Homo sapiens: one gene and its partners. The gene in region 3 interacts genetically with the main gene of each other region. Each region holds a gene or a part of one and is shown on either strand. Other genes may lie near its edges.

Evidence for each region. A genetic interaction does not mean that the proteins touch.
Region 1: changes in AFG3L2 (region 3) and NDUFB4 together harm fitness more than expected from each alone (negative genetic interaction), as found in Homo sapiens cells (one large-scale study listed by BioGRID).
Region 2: changes in AFG3L2 (region 3) and PITRM1 together harm fitness more than expected from each alone (negative genetic interaction), as found in Homo sapiens cells (one large-scale study listed by BioGRID).

What each region holds. Positions count from the first base shown.
Region 1 is NC_000003.12:120,599,336-120,603,007, reverse strand, and holds the end of NDUFB4 (NADH dehydrogenase [ubiquinone] 1 beta subcomplex subunit 4), read right to left. Parts: intron 1,898-3,672; coding exon 1,751-1,897; coding exon of another isoform or gene 1,715-1,750; exon of another isoform or gene 801-1,714; coding exon 738-800; 3' UTR 501-737; downstream 1-500. UniProt on the Homo sapiens protein: Accessory subunit of the mitochondrial membrane respiratory chain NADH dehydrogenase (Complex I), that is believed not to be involved in catalysis. Complex I functions in the transfer of electrons from NADH to the respiratory chain.
Region 2 is NC_000010.11:3,169,983-3,174,195, forward strand, and holds the start of PITRM1 (presequence protease, mitochondrial isoform 2 precursor), read right to left. Parts: upstream 2,801-4,213; 5' UTR 2,798-2,800; coding exon of another isoform or gene 2,791-2,797; coding exon 2,735-2,790; exon of another isoform or gene 2,232-2,734; coding exon of another isoform or gene 2,200-2,231; intron 225-2,199; coding exon 122-224; intron 1-121. UniProt on the Homo sapiens protein: Metalloendopeptidase of the mitochondrial matrix that functions in peptide cleavage and degradation rather than in protein processing. Has an ATP-independent activity. Specifically cleaves peptides in the range of 5 to 65 residues.
Region 3 is NC_000018.10:12,374,428-12,378,653, forward strand, and holds the start of AFG3L2 (mitochondrial inner membrane m-AAA protease component AFG3L2), read right to left. Parts: upstream 2,801-4,226; 5' UTR 2,656-2,800; coding exon 2,542-2,655; intron 1-2,541. UniProt on the Homo sapiens protein: Catalytic component of the m-AAA protease, a protease that plays a key role in proteostasis of inner mitochondrial membrane proteins, and which is essential for axonal and neuron development.

The DNA of each region.
Region 1 (3,672 bases), on a different chromosome or scaffold from region 3:
GCCCAGATTTGACCTCCAAAGGTCACGCCCCTAACCATTATATTTCTGCTCCTCAGCATGACCTCCATGCTCCATCTCCTCACCCCACAGTAGCCCACAATCCAGCCATACCCAACACACCTTGCCCCTTCATGCTCCTGTTTTGTCCTGTCAGCCTTGTGAACTTCAGAGCCTAGATCAAATGCCACCTCCCTAAATTCCTCAGGTAGAACTGCTTCTCATCAGCTTGCCTACATCATTTTCCTGAATCTCGATTGTATTTTTTACATTGGTGTTAGTTTGGCTGTATTTACCACTGCAGCTGGGGCCAGACAAGGGCTTAGGTATTAAATAGTACCAGACGGTAGTAAGCACTCAAATAATTGTTCAATAAACAGCTGTCAGAGTACGTACTCCTTAAGAACAGGCTCTGTCTTACTGACTGTTGTATTCTCTGCACATAACATAATGCCTGGCTCGTAGTTAACACTCGCTTGTTGAACAACTGATTGTAGAATCTGTACTTTCTAAGAGCTCACAGTTTAATGAAGTTTATGTTCATTCATTCAATGTACAGCAAATGTTTGCTGTCACTCTGACAGCAGATTCCCAACACGGGCTGCGTCTGCTTCTGTGTTGTTAGGGTGTTAATAGTTTTTAACATTGAATCAAGGTAATACTAAGAAAGAGAAACTACTACTTAATGATTAATAGATGATTTATTTAGGCAGGAATACATATAGTCATCATTGCCAGACTTAATATGAGAGGTGAAATGTTCGATCCAATTTTCCTTCCTGGATAAGTTTTTCTTTCCTATCCTGTAAAGACAGAAAAAAAGTACATTAAAGACAATATATTCTGCCAGTTGGCTATATTAGATAAAAATAAATAAATAAAAAAGGTAAGAAAAACTGCATTTTGGCACAACCCACCGTACAACTGACAAACAGAATGAAACACTCCAAACCTAATTGCAATCCCACTGTCTAAAGCCCAGGGAGTGTGCGAAGAAACAGTAATCCGAGGAACTAAAGACACAGTAAGAAAATGCTCCTATTCAAAAACATCTTACTCACATTTTAGTCATTAGAAATATATTATCCCATAAAACCATATATTGAAAGCAAAATGCAAACACTTTCTGGGAAAATGTGGACTACCTTTCTGTTAAGTAGATCATTCACCAGATAATCAAAATACACGAACTCTAATGGGAATGCAGATGGGCCAGTTAAAGACAAAGCTAGACGAGTGGGCTCCAGTGGCAACACAAGCCTGGGGGCTGCAGCTCAGGGTTTAGTACCAGATGTGGAATGGTTTGGTGCCAAAGATCAGCTTGACTTTCTCTCCAATCATATACCCAGGCTGCTGACGGCAGCTATTCCCCACACAGGCAGCTTGTGCTTCTCTGTCCGTAGAGTATTAATAGGTTTTAACATTAATTTGCAAAATGTGACCAACATAAATAGAATTCACGCAAACAGGAAACGTACTAAATGATTTATGTATTCTGCTAATACTTAACCCAATAAACATCATCTTTTTAAAAAACAAATGAACTAACAAAAATAGACAAAGGTGACTGAAAACTTTCTGTTTTAACTCCTGCTGGAAAGGAATAAAGATAAAAGAAGAGAGGAAGGGAAGGCAGAGGACAGCCCCAAGGTGGGAGGGGCACTGGTGGCAATCTTCAAGAGAAGGAGCTGCAGCTGGTCCCTAGAAAGTGAACCTATCACTCAAATACTAAACATCTGGTCTGAATACTTACCCTCTCAGTTTTGATAATATAATAAATGAAGATGAGGGGCCCAAATCCACACAGAGCTCCCATGAGTGAGTTTTTAGGAGTGGGTCTGAAATTAGGATAGACATTTATTGTTCTTGCATAGGCCCAACGAAGCAAGGCAGGATTTTCCTAAAATTAATGAAAACAAAAAGTTATAGAACTTAAGAAGGATCACATTGAGAAACAAATTCATAGGGACTTTTGTGAAGGAGCACAGACGCATTTTGTTCTCTAGAACAGTTAAGGGTATATCATGAATATTCCTAAACAGCTTCAGGAAAGATCTTTCATTTCTGGTGTTTTTTGAATTCTAATGATCTTGTTCAAATCCTTCAGAATGTAGAAGGCTCATATCACTAATTAGCTTTCTGTTTATTTAAGAATCCTAATCTTAATCTAACTAATCTAACCTAATCTAACTGTCAGAGAAGCCACTTTTTCTCCTTTGTCATTTTCATCTATTCTTCTCTGGACTGTTTTTAGCTTCATTGTCAAGTGTGACCATCAGAACCATGCAGTATTCCCAATGAAGAGAAACAGATTTCATATGCTCTATCATGCTTTGTATTTTGTTTCCAGGACCCTTTCTAATGCTATCACCAAAATAGTCTTTCCAGGCTACAAATAAGCTGTAGGAAGATGAAGGAGGGGGTAGGCTAGCTGAACTGTAAGTTTTTTAAGCTGACCTAGTGTGAAAAGCATTAATTCAGACATTTCACACTATTAGAAGTTTTGTAGAAAGGTCAAAGTTGTTAAAGAAAAATAATCAGACTGTCTTAAGAAAATAATTGTCCATTTTAATATATTTATACTAGAATAACTATCCATGAATAGCAAATCTACCCACAAACACATAAATTTAATTAGCTAAATGCCCAAGTGATTTTACAAAATTAGTCTCTCCAATTAACTGACAGATAAAAATAAGCAAATAAAATCAGCTTTAAGACTTTAATATATAACATGAATATTCAAGGTCCTAACCAACATCAAGAAGTCATGATTTGTAGGACTAAAATAATTTCACAAGGTCTTCCACAGTCATATTTCAAACTAAATTACAACAATTTACCCTGAGATAATCAGCTGCAGCTCAGAAGTTTAAAAAAAAAAAAAAACAAAAAAAAAAACCTTATGATGGAAATGCTTCCGTTCCTTTTAATCAGACTGAAATTCCTCAACGGTGTAAGCACTCACTACTAGATACAAAGTCCCAAAATATCTTCTGCTGTTCTAGAAACTATTGACATTATCACACCACATTAAAATGAAAGCACATGCAAGTGTTCTGCAGCATTGTTTATTATTATGCCTATACTGCCAACAAGAAAAAAGAGGGTAAAGACACAGATTAGGTCCAAGGGGATGTTAAAGCTCAATAGCTGAAAGGATTAATGCATCTATTCTTACATCCTTTCTACTATAAATGTATCTGAATGACTATCAAATGGCAGACTTCTCAATTTGCTAGTCACCTCTCTGTGCTTTAATATCTGCCAGATCTGTCTTCCAGAAACAGACATTTCATTTCATAAAAATACCAATTGCCCCATGACCATAGTTCATTAAGCCCGGTAATGTTATTGAGAGGTTCCAAAAGACACACTATGAAGAGAGTTTTCCTCCTCTGACATCACTAAAAGTCCAGTGCACTCTCAGTAGCATCTGACATGGTGAAAACTCCTGAAAATCATGTCTTCACTTGACTTCCAGGCCCACACCTGCTTGGATTTCCTGCTAACTCTATGGCCATTCTCTCTTCATTTCTTTGCTCTTTTCCTCCTCATCTCCCCAATCTCTTAATATTGGACCTCGCTGGTCTTTCCTATCTACATTTACTCCCTTGATGATGTCATCTGGTCAGATAACTTTAAATAATCTATCTAAAGGCTGATGATTCCCAA
Region 2 (4,213 bases), on a different chromosome or scaffold from region 3:
AGGGCCTTGGGACACAAGGACAAAAACGCTAGTCTCCGCCCTGAAGGGCTCCGTACATAGGCCAGAAGCCGCACCTGCAATGTATGTGGATTTATAAGGAGGTGCCGAGGACGACCCATACCTGGTTTACGGTGAATCCATGGATCTTGTCTCCTAGTTTATACTGCAGAGCCCTCTCACAAGCCCGGTTACTGTTCCATCGCCACGCTCTGTGGTGTGCATGTCTAGATTAAAAGTCATCTAAGTTAGATGAGTTGCAGGAAAAGTATCTGGCTAACATTATTCAGCCACATAGTGAAAATACTCTCATGTAATAAAGATTATTAAAGAAAAATTAAATATTGCATCTTCCAAAGTCTTGCACATTCCAGAAAACTGATTTCTGGTAAGGTCCTTTCCATTTTAATGATCTTTATCTTAACTAAAGCTTCAATGTTGGAAACCTTTTCTTTACACTTGTTCACAAATAACTATAATACAATTACAGTTTAAATTCCCCTTGTTTAAGAGACAACTCTTAAACAAAAGGGCTTCTTTCCTTCACAGAATCCTCAAAAGCCTTCACAGTATACCAAGAAATTCACACTACAGTTAAATCCCATTACATGCCTACCGAATTGCTGAAAACTTAAAAAGCCTAATATTACCGGGAACTCTCATACACTGCTACAGGGAGTACAAAGTGGAATAACTTTGGAAAAGCACTTGGCATTCTTTAGAAAGGCTGAAGAGGCCGGGCGTGGTGGCTTACGTCTGTAATCCCAGCACTTTGGGAGGCCTGGGTGGGCGGATCACCTGAGGTCAGGAGTTCGAGACCAGCCTGGCCAAAAATTAGCCTGATGTGGTGGCAGGTGCCTGTAGTCCCAGATACTTGGGAGGCTGAGGCAGGAGAATCGCTTGAACCCGGGAAGTGGAGGCTGCAGTGGGCCGAGATCACGCCACTGCACTCCAGCCTGGGTGACAGAGCAAGACTGTCGGAAAAAAAAGAAAAAAATGCTGAAGATTGGAAATCCATTCACCTCTTGGTCTCTATCGTCCACACCTTACACTGCGGCCCCAGCACTCACAGACAAAAATGTCAGCACGAACCCTGACAGTCCCAAACTCAACTCACCCGGAGGTGTATCGACAGAGAATGGATAAAGTGCGGACTAATCGTTCAATTAAAAAAAAAAAAAAAAAAAAAAAAAAAAAAAAAAAAACCTTACCAATATAAGGGCCTACAGTGGCATGTAACAAAGATATGGGTCACATAACGTGAAACAAAAGATACACATGATACAGTATTATCCTAAACAGGTATTATTCAAATAGGTAACAAGACATTGTCAGAACGCATAAAAATGGTAAAATATTAAAAAAAAAAAAAGCAAGGACATTTCTGTATGTTATGACCGTGATAATCTAAGAGGGAGGGAGAGAGTTACGAGCAGTTAGGGGAATCTTCAACTTGGTCACAGGGACACTAATTTTCTTTTTTGAGACAGATCTCACTCTGTTGCCCAGGCTGGAGTGCAGCGGTGCAATCTCGACTCACTGCAACCTCCACCTCCCGGGTTCAAGCAATTCTGTCTCAGCCTCCTGAGTGGCTGGGACTACAAGTGCTCACTACTACGCCCAGCTAATTTTTGTATTTTTAGTAGAGACAGTTTCACCATGTCGGCCAGGCTGGTCTTGAACTCCTGACCTCAAGTGGTCTGCCCGCCTTGGCCTCCCAACATGCTGGGATTACAGGTGTGAGCCACCGCGCCCAACCTATTTCTAATAATTATTCTCACCTGAATGAGATGGCTCACACCTGTAACCCCGCAATGCGAGAGGCTGAGGAGGGGGATCAAACCAGCCTGGGAAACAGAGCAAGATCCCTGCTCTTAAAAAACACGTAATTATTATTCTCTCCAATTGTATTATATGTCGTATGGGATTTTCTACATTAATGTATCCCACCGAAATATTTATTTTAAAGATAATATGTACAGGAAGAAAAAACCTATTCAGTCACTGGCAATATTATGAAGATATGCTATAACCAACATTTGCTTACTGATTTAGCAAATTTCAGAATTATGGGACAGAAGCGTTTTAAGAAGTTACTTATCAAGGACATGATAGGAAACTCCTGAGCGGTAAGGCCAGGCCGAACTCATGCCACGGACGCCCCGTGCCTCCCGGCCTGGGCCGGCAGCGCTGAACTATTACCTTATATTAAACACGGGCTCGTGGATTACCATGAACACTAAACTGCTTCGTCATTTTTTTCCCCATAAATTGAGTCATTAAAAAAACAAAACAGTTCAATTCCGGGAGGCGTCAGTTCTCTGAACACAGCGAGACTTTAAGTATGGGCTGTGGGCGCCTCGGGTCTCTTAAGGACTCGGCCTCCCAACAAAAATGAACTAGGAGCAAAGCTGTCAGCGAGAACCGCAAATGCCGACCCCATTTACTACCCCCGTTAAAGCCCACGCTAATGGAGGGCCCCGCCGGGAGCGCCGCGGGCAGGCCCGGCCCCCAGCCCGGGGCATCGCCCCTGGGAGTAGGAAGGAGCTCCGAGGTCCTCCGGCCTCGGAGCCTCGGATGCGGGAGCTCCAGGAAGGGCTCGGGGTGCGGGACGCCCACAGCTTGGGGAGCTGCCAGCCCCGGGCGCAGGGACGAGGACCCCTACGCCTCCGGCCTGCCCTGGACCCTCCCCTCCCGGGTACCAGCGCGCCGAGCGCCTCCCGTCGCAGCGTCTCACCCGCCGCTCAGCCGCCTCAGCACACACAGGCCCTGCCGCCCGCCGCAGCGCCACATTGCGCATGACGAGCACCTGGCTGGCGAGGAACCCCCTCTTAACCCGACGCAGGGCGCGGGGCGGGGCTTGCCGTGACAGCTACCACTCCTATTGGTCAACGCGAACAGCGACGTCCTCTGCGATAGGCTGTAGGTGAAAAGGGTAGGCCTCCACTGCTCTGGGACGGGCGGGAGGGCGGTGCGGACGGAGATGGGCGGGAGGGGCGGGGCCGACGTGCCGAAGGAGGCGGGCAAGGCGAGGGGCGTGGTACGGGTAGAAAGGGGCGGGGCCGTCTTGCCGAAAGGGGCGGGGTTCGGCCAGCAGCAGGATGTGGACAGATGATAGGAGGGGGAAGTGGGCAGGCGAGAAGTGGGGCGTGGCGAGAGGCGTGTGTATGCAGATGAAGTGGGGCCTGGTGAAGGGCGGGGCTGCGCTGGTGAAAAGAGGGGCTCCTGGAATGGCGTGCTGTGTTGGGTGGGGCTGTGCAAGTGATGGGAGGGGCTTAGCGAGGGGTGGCTCTTTGCAGGTGAGGAGTGGAGACCAGTGGGAGAGGGGATTGCAAGTGAGCTGAGCCTTGGGGGCGGGGCTTGCAGGTGACAGGGTGGAGCCTAGTGGGCGGGGATGCAAGTGAGCTGGGCCTTGGGGATGGGGCTTGCAGGCGATGGGGTGGAGCCTGGTGGGGCGGGGCTGCAGGTGAGCTGGGCCTTGGGGGCGGGGCTTGCATGCGAGAGGTGGGTCCTTGTGGGGGCAGGGCTGGCAGAAGTGGGTGGGGCTTGGTGATGGACCGCGGTGTTCAGGTGAGGGTAGTGGCCTGGTTGGGGGCTGCCGGAAGCTGGGCCAGGTGAAACTTGGTAGCCCTCTCTGGCCTTGGTGTGGGCGTTGGTCCTGTTTGTAGGGCTGAGCTGAGCTCCAAAGGCGTTCTGCTGCCCCGCCAGGCCTGAACCTTGGGGTCTGGGGGCTTCTTGGATGAGATCTCAAGGCTGCATGGCAGGTCCCAGGGCCAGGGCCCCACGGTGTCACACGTATCACGGATGGCCGCCAGCGAAGCACAGCACAGCTCCGAGCTGCTGCATGGGAGCCTGTGGCCCCCGCTGCTGCCTCCGCTTTCCTCTTCGTTTCGTGTCTAGGAAGATGCACCTGAGCCCCCTGACATTGCCCAAGTGCCCAAGGGCCCTTCTGGGAACCCCCAGAGAGGCTGAAGGAGGCCCCCGTAGGAGTGGGTGGTTCTGCACTGTGGGCCAGAAGGGGCCCTGGGATTAGCCACGCTTGGAGAGGGTGGGGTAGCCCTTGGAGGAAGTCCGCACCAAGTCTGACCTTCCGGGTTTCTCAGAGCCTCTCTTCCTTCCTCCCTTCACCTTCTCCCTCTTTTTTTCCCCTTGTATCACGAATACAAACAGGCTCAAATCTCCCTCTGTCTCCTAATGGGCTCTGAAAAAAAAAATT
Region 3 (4,226 bases):
TGTCTCTGATCTTTAAGGGTAGCAGGAACATAAAGGAAAACCTGTCCTATCAGACTCCCTCACAGCACAGTAATGCCCAGGTGTCACTAGGCAAATCTTCAGAGAGTACCAAAGAGTATGTATCAGGACCGCGAACCCCCACACCCTCCGCAAATCAATCAGCTACAGCTGTCAGCACAGAGGACTTCCTTATACATCAGCATCTGAGTGATACAGGGACAATAGTGTCACTCAAAAGGAAAGCCTTTGGGTAACACTTCTGACATAAAACTGCAAACTCACAATGCAGATCCCCACCTGGAACTGTATGTCTGAATCCAATATTCATGAGCAGCAAAAGAAAAGCAGTCAGGCCGGGCAAGGTGGCTCACGTCTGTAATACTAGCACTTTGGGAGGCCAAATGGATTGCTTGAGGCCAGGAGTTTGAGACCAGCCTGGCCAACAAGGTGAAACACCATCTCTACTAAAAATACAAAATTTAGCCAGGCGTAGTGGCGGGCGCCTGTAATCCCAGCTACTCGGGAGGCTGAGGCAGGAGAATTGCTTGAACCCTGGAGGCGAAGGTTGCAGTGACCCAAAATCACACCACTGCACTCCAGTCTGGGCGACAGAGCGAGACCCTGTCTCAAAAAAAAAAAAAAAAGAAAAGAAAAGAAAAGGGATCAGAGCTTGGTAAAACAGGGAAATGGATACAGGAAACCGAAAAAGGACCTACCACACGGCAGCGTGGCGTGACCATGGCGAAGAAATTGATTTAAGACTGGCAAGGGAGCCTCAAGGAGTAAAAATCATGAATGCAGGCACTATTATTCCCCCTCCCCACCCCCGCTCTTTTTTTTTTTAGGAGACAGAGTCCGTCACCCACGCTGGAGTACAGCAATGCAATCAAAACTCACTGGAGCCTCAACCTCCCGCGCCAAGCAACCCGCCTTGGCCCCCCGAGTTGCTGGGACTATAGTCATAAGTCACTGAGCCCAGGTAAGAAAAAAAAAAAAAAAACAATTTGTAGAGGCCAGGAGCTGTGGCTCAGGTCTGTAATTCCAACACTTTGAGAGGAGGAGGCGGGAGGATCGCCTGGGTCCTGGAGTTCCAGGCCAGCCTGGGCAACTGGGCAAGATGGTGAACCCTATCTTTTGGGACGGAGTCTCGCTCTGTCGCCCAGGCTAGAGTGCAGTGGCCCGCTCTTGGCTCACTGCCAGCTCCACCGCCCAGGTTCACGCCATTCCCCTGCCTCAGTCTCCCGAGCAGCTGGGACTACAGGCGCCCGCCACCACGCCCGGCTAATTTTTTGTATTTTTAGTAGAGATGGGGTTTCACCGTGTTAGCCAGGATGATCTCGATTTTCTGACCTCGTGATCCACCCGCCTGCTGGGATTACAGCCGTGAGCTACCGCGCCTGGCCTCTCCAGAAACTTTTTAAAAATCAACCACGGTGCTGTAGTCCCAGATACTCCGGAGGCTGAGGCGGGAGGATCGCTTGAGTTTGGGGCTGCAGTGAGCTGTGTTTGCGCCGCTGCACTCCGGCCTGGGCGAAGAAGCAAAACCCCGTCTCTTAAAAAATAAAAATAAAAATAAAAATCGTAGATCGGAGGGTCTGCTACCCTACCCAAGCTGGTTTCCAACTCCTGGAGTCAAGCGATTCTCCCGCCTCGGCCTCCCTAAGTGCTGGGATCGCAGGCGTGAGCCCCGGCACTAGCCTATCTCCCCTTACAGTGAAGACGTTGAGCTGACTACAAGGGCGCTGGGATAGCAGGAGGCCAAGCCAGGTTCCCGTGGCCGACCCGGGGACCTCAACCACCACCCGTACACCAGTGCAAGGCTGAGGAACCGTGTCACTTAAACAGTGAGAGCGACTATTCGACACGTGAACCTTTCATTGAGACTGATCACGGCCATGGTTCTGTCAACACTCTATCATTATGTCAGAAACACGTATCAGGTCCCGTGTGTGTATCTAGAGGGATGGCTACCAACAGAGAAAGAGCCTCCTGCTGAGAGCAGGCCCTGATATGCAACGAACACAGAGTCCCTGCTATGAAAAGGTGACATTCTTAATAATAATAGCTAATACTGCCAGTCCTGGAATGCCCGCAATGGCCCCATTCAACAGACGGGAACACGGAGACTCGGAGAGGTTAGGCAGCCCGACTCCAAAACCCGTCCTTGCGACTACATCGTGCTCGTGCTGCTGACTCAAAATTACAGACGCCTTCGTTCCGTGCTCCGGGGACACGAAAGCGGGGACAAGGACGGCCACCAAGCCAACATGACCTTCGAGGCTTCAACCGCCCCGGTGAAGCGCGAAAACCCGGCTCTACTGAAGCTGCGCGTTTTCAAAACTTGAATCCCACAGGCAGGGCTGAGCGCGAATCGGCGCTCCCGGGGCCGGCTGAGAGACAGCGCAGGGCGCCCAGGCCCTCGGCAGGGACGGCCCGCGTGCGGCCGGAGGGCGGGGGCCAGTGACCTTGACGTCCGCTCTCCCGAGCCGGAAGTGGGCCCGAGGCAGGGTGGAGGGCGCCGGGCGCCCAGGTAGGACTCACCGTCCGGAGGCAGGGCTGCTCGCCCGGGCCCACGCCGCCAGGCACGAGGAGCTGCTGTAGGCCGCGGGGCCAGCAGCCGCCCCGGCCCCACAGCCGCAAACAGCGGTGCGCCATGGCCGCCGCCGTGGCCCTCTCGGCCCGGGACGCTGCGCAGGCGCGGGCAGGCGACGACTGGCGGCCTCGGGAAGCGGGCTCGGCTCGGGGAAAGGCCGCCAGGCAGCGAAGCGCGCCGGCGGCTCACGGAGGAGCCCAAGCTCTCAACGCGGCGTCTCCTGCCGCCAGCCCCGCCCCGGCGCGCTGACGTCGGCGTCTCCTCTCCGAGGCCCGCCGCGACCTCCGCCAGTGCAGAAGACAGGACCAAATGGGAGGAGCATGGGGGCGGGACCGGAGGCGGGGGCCGACGGAGCAGCGTTGGGGGCGCGGCAGGAGGCGGGGCCGAGAAGGACCCTGGAGGGCAAGGGGGAGCTAGAGGCGGGGACCGGGCCGAGGGAGGACTCGGGAGGGCGAGCGAGAGCTGGGGGCGGGGCTGATGGCGCACGTGGGGGGCGTGGCTGGAGGTGGGGCCGAGGAAGGACTAGGAGAGCGAGCAGGAGCTGGAGGCGGGGCCGACGGAGGGGTGTGGGGGGCGTGGCTGGAGGCGGGGACTAAGGGGAGACGCGTGACTGGGATCCTGGGCTTCCGAGCCTGGGCAGCCGGGTGGGCCAGCCAGTAGGAGCGAGGGGGAAGTAGCGAAGGCCCCAGCGGCGGCAGATGGAAGGACCCTCCGAGCGCCAGCTGAGTCATGGGGTGGTGCTAGGCTCTGGAGACACCGAAGCACACATTCCTGACCCCTGGGAGGGCGATGCGAAGATTCACAAGCAGCAGGGAATGTTGGGGCTGTGCCGTGCAGCCTGCGCTCTAGGAACCCTGTCGGGGAACTGGTTCTCGGAGAGCAAGTCGAGTCTTCCAGGTAGTGGAAACTACACATTGTTTCCTGTACCGTGACAGCGGAGGAAAAAGGAGAGGTCTTTGAACTGAGGTGGGGGACTTGGGGGTTTTTCTGAGACGGGCTCTCGCTCTGTCGCCCAGGCTGGCGACGCTGGACCTCAGGCAAAGGACAGTAATCCTTGAGAGACAGGAGACAAAACCAGGTGAGTCCTGTGATTACCCCAGTGGCAGTAAAACAATAACAAAAAGATATACCAGATACACCATCATACCATGCTCACACAAAAGAAAACTGAGTAGACAAATAGATTTTAGGGCAAGGAAATTCCAAAGAAAATTAATTGCAGGGAAAAGAATATCACTAAGGATGAAGAGGATCGGGTTTCTTTTCCAGAGACAGGGTCTCAGTCTGTCACTTAGGCTGGAATGCCATGGTGCAATCGTAGCTCACTGCAGCCTCTAACTCCTGGGCTCAAGGGATCCTCCTGCCTCAGCCTCCCAAGTAGCTGGGACCACACACGCTCGACCACACTCGACTTTTTTTATTTTGTGTAGAGTTGAAGTCTCACTTTGTTGCCCAGGCTAGTCTCAAACTCCTGGCTTTAAGCAATCCTCCTGACTCAGCCTCCCAAAGTGCTGGGATTACAGATGTGAGCCACCCACATCTGGCCAAGAGAATTATTATTATTATTATTATTATTATTATTATTATTATAAAGGGGTCAGTTCATCAGTAGGACATAACAACCCTAAACATC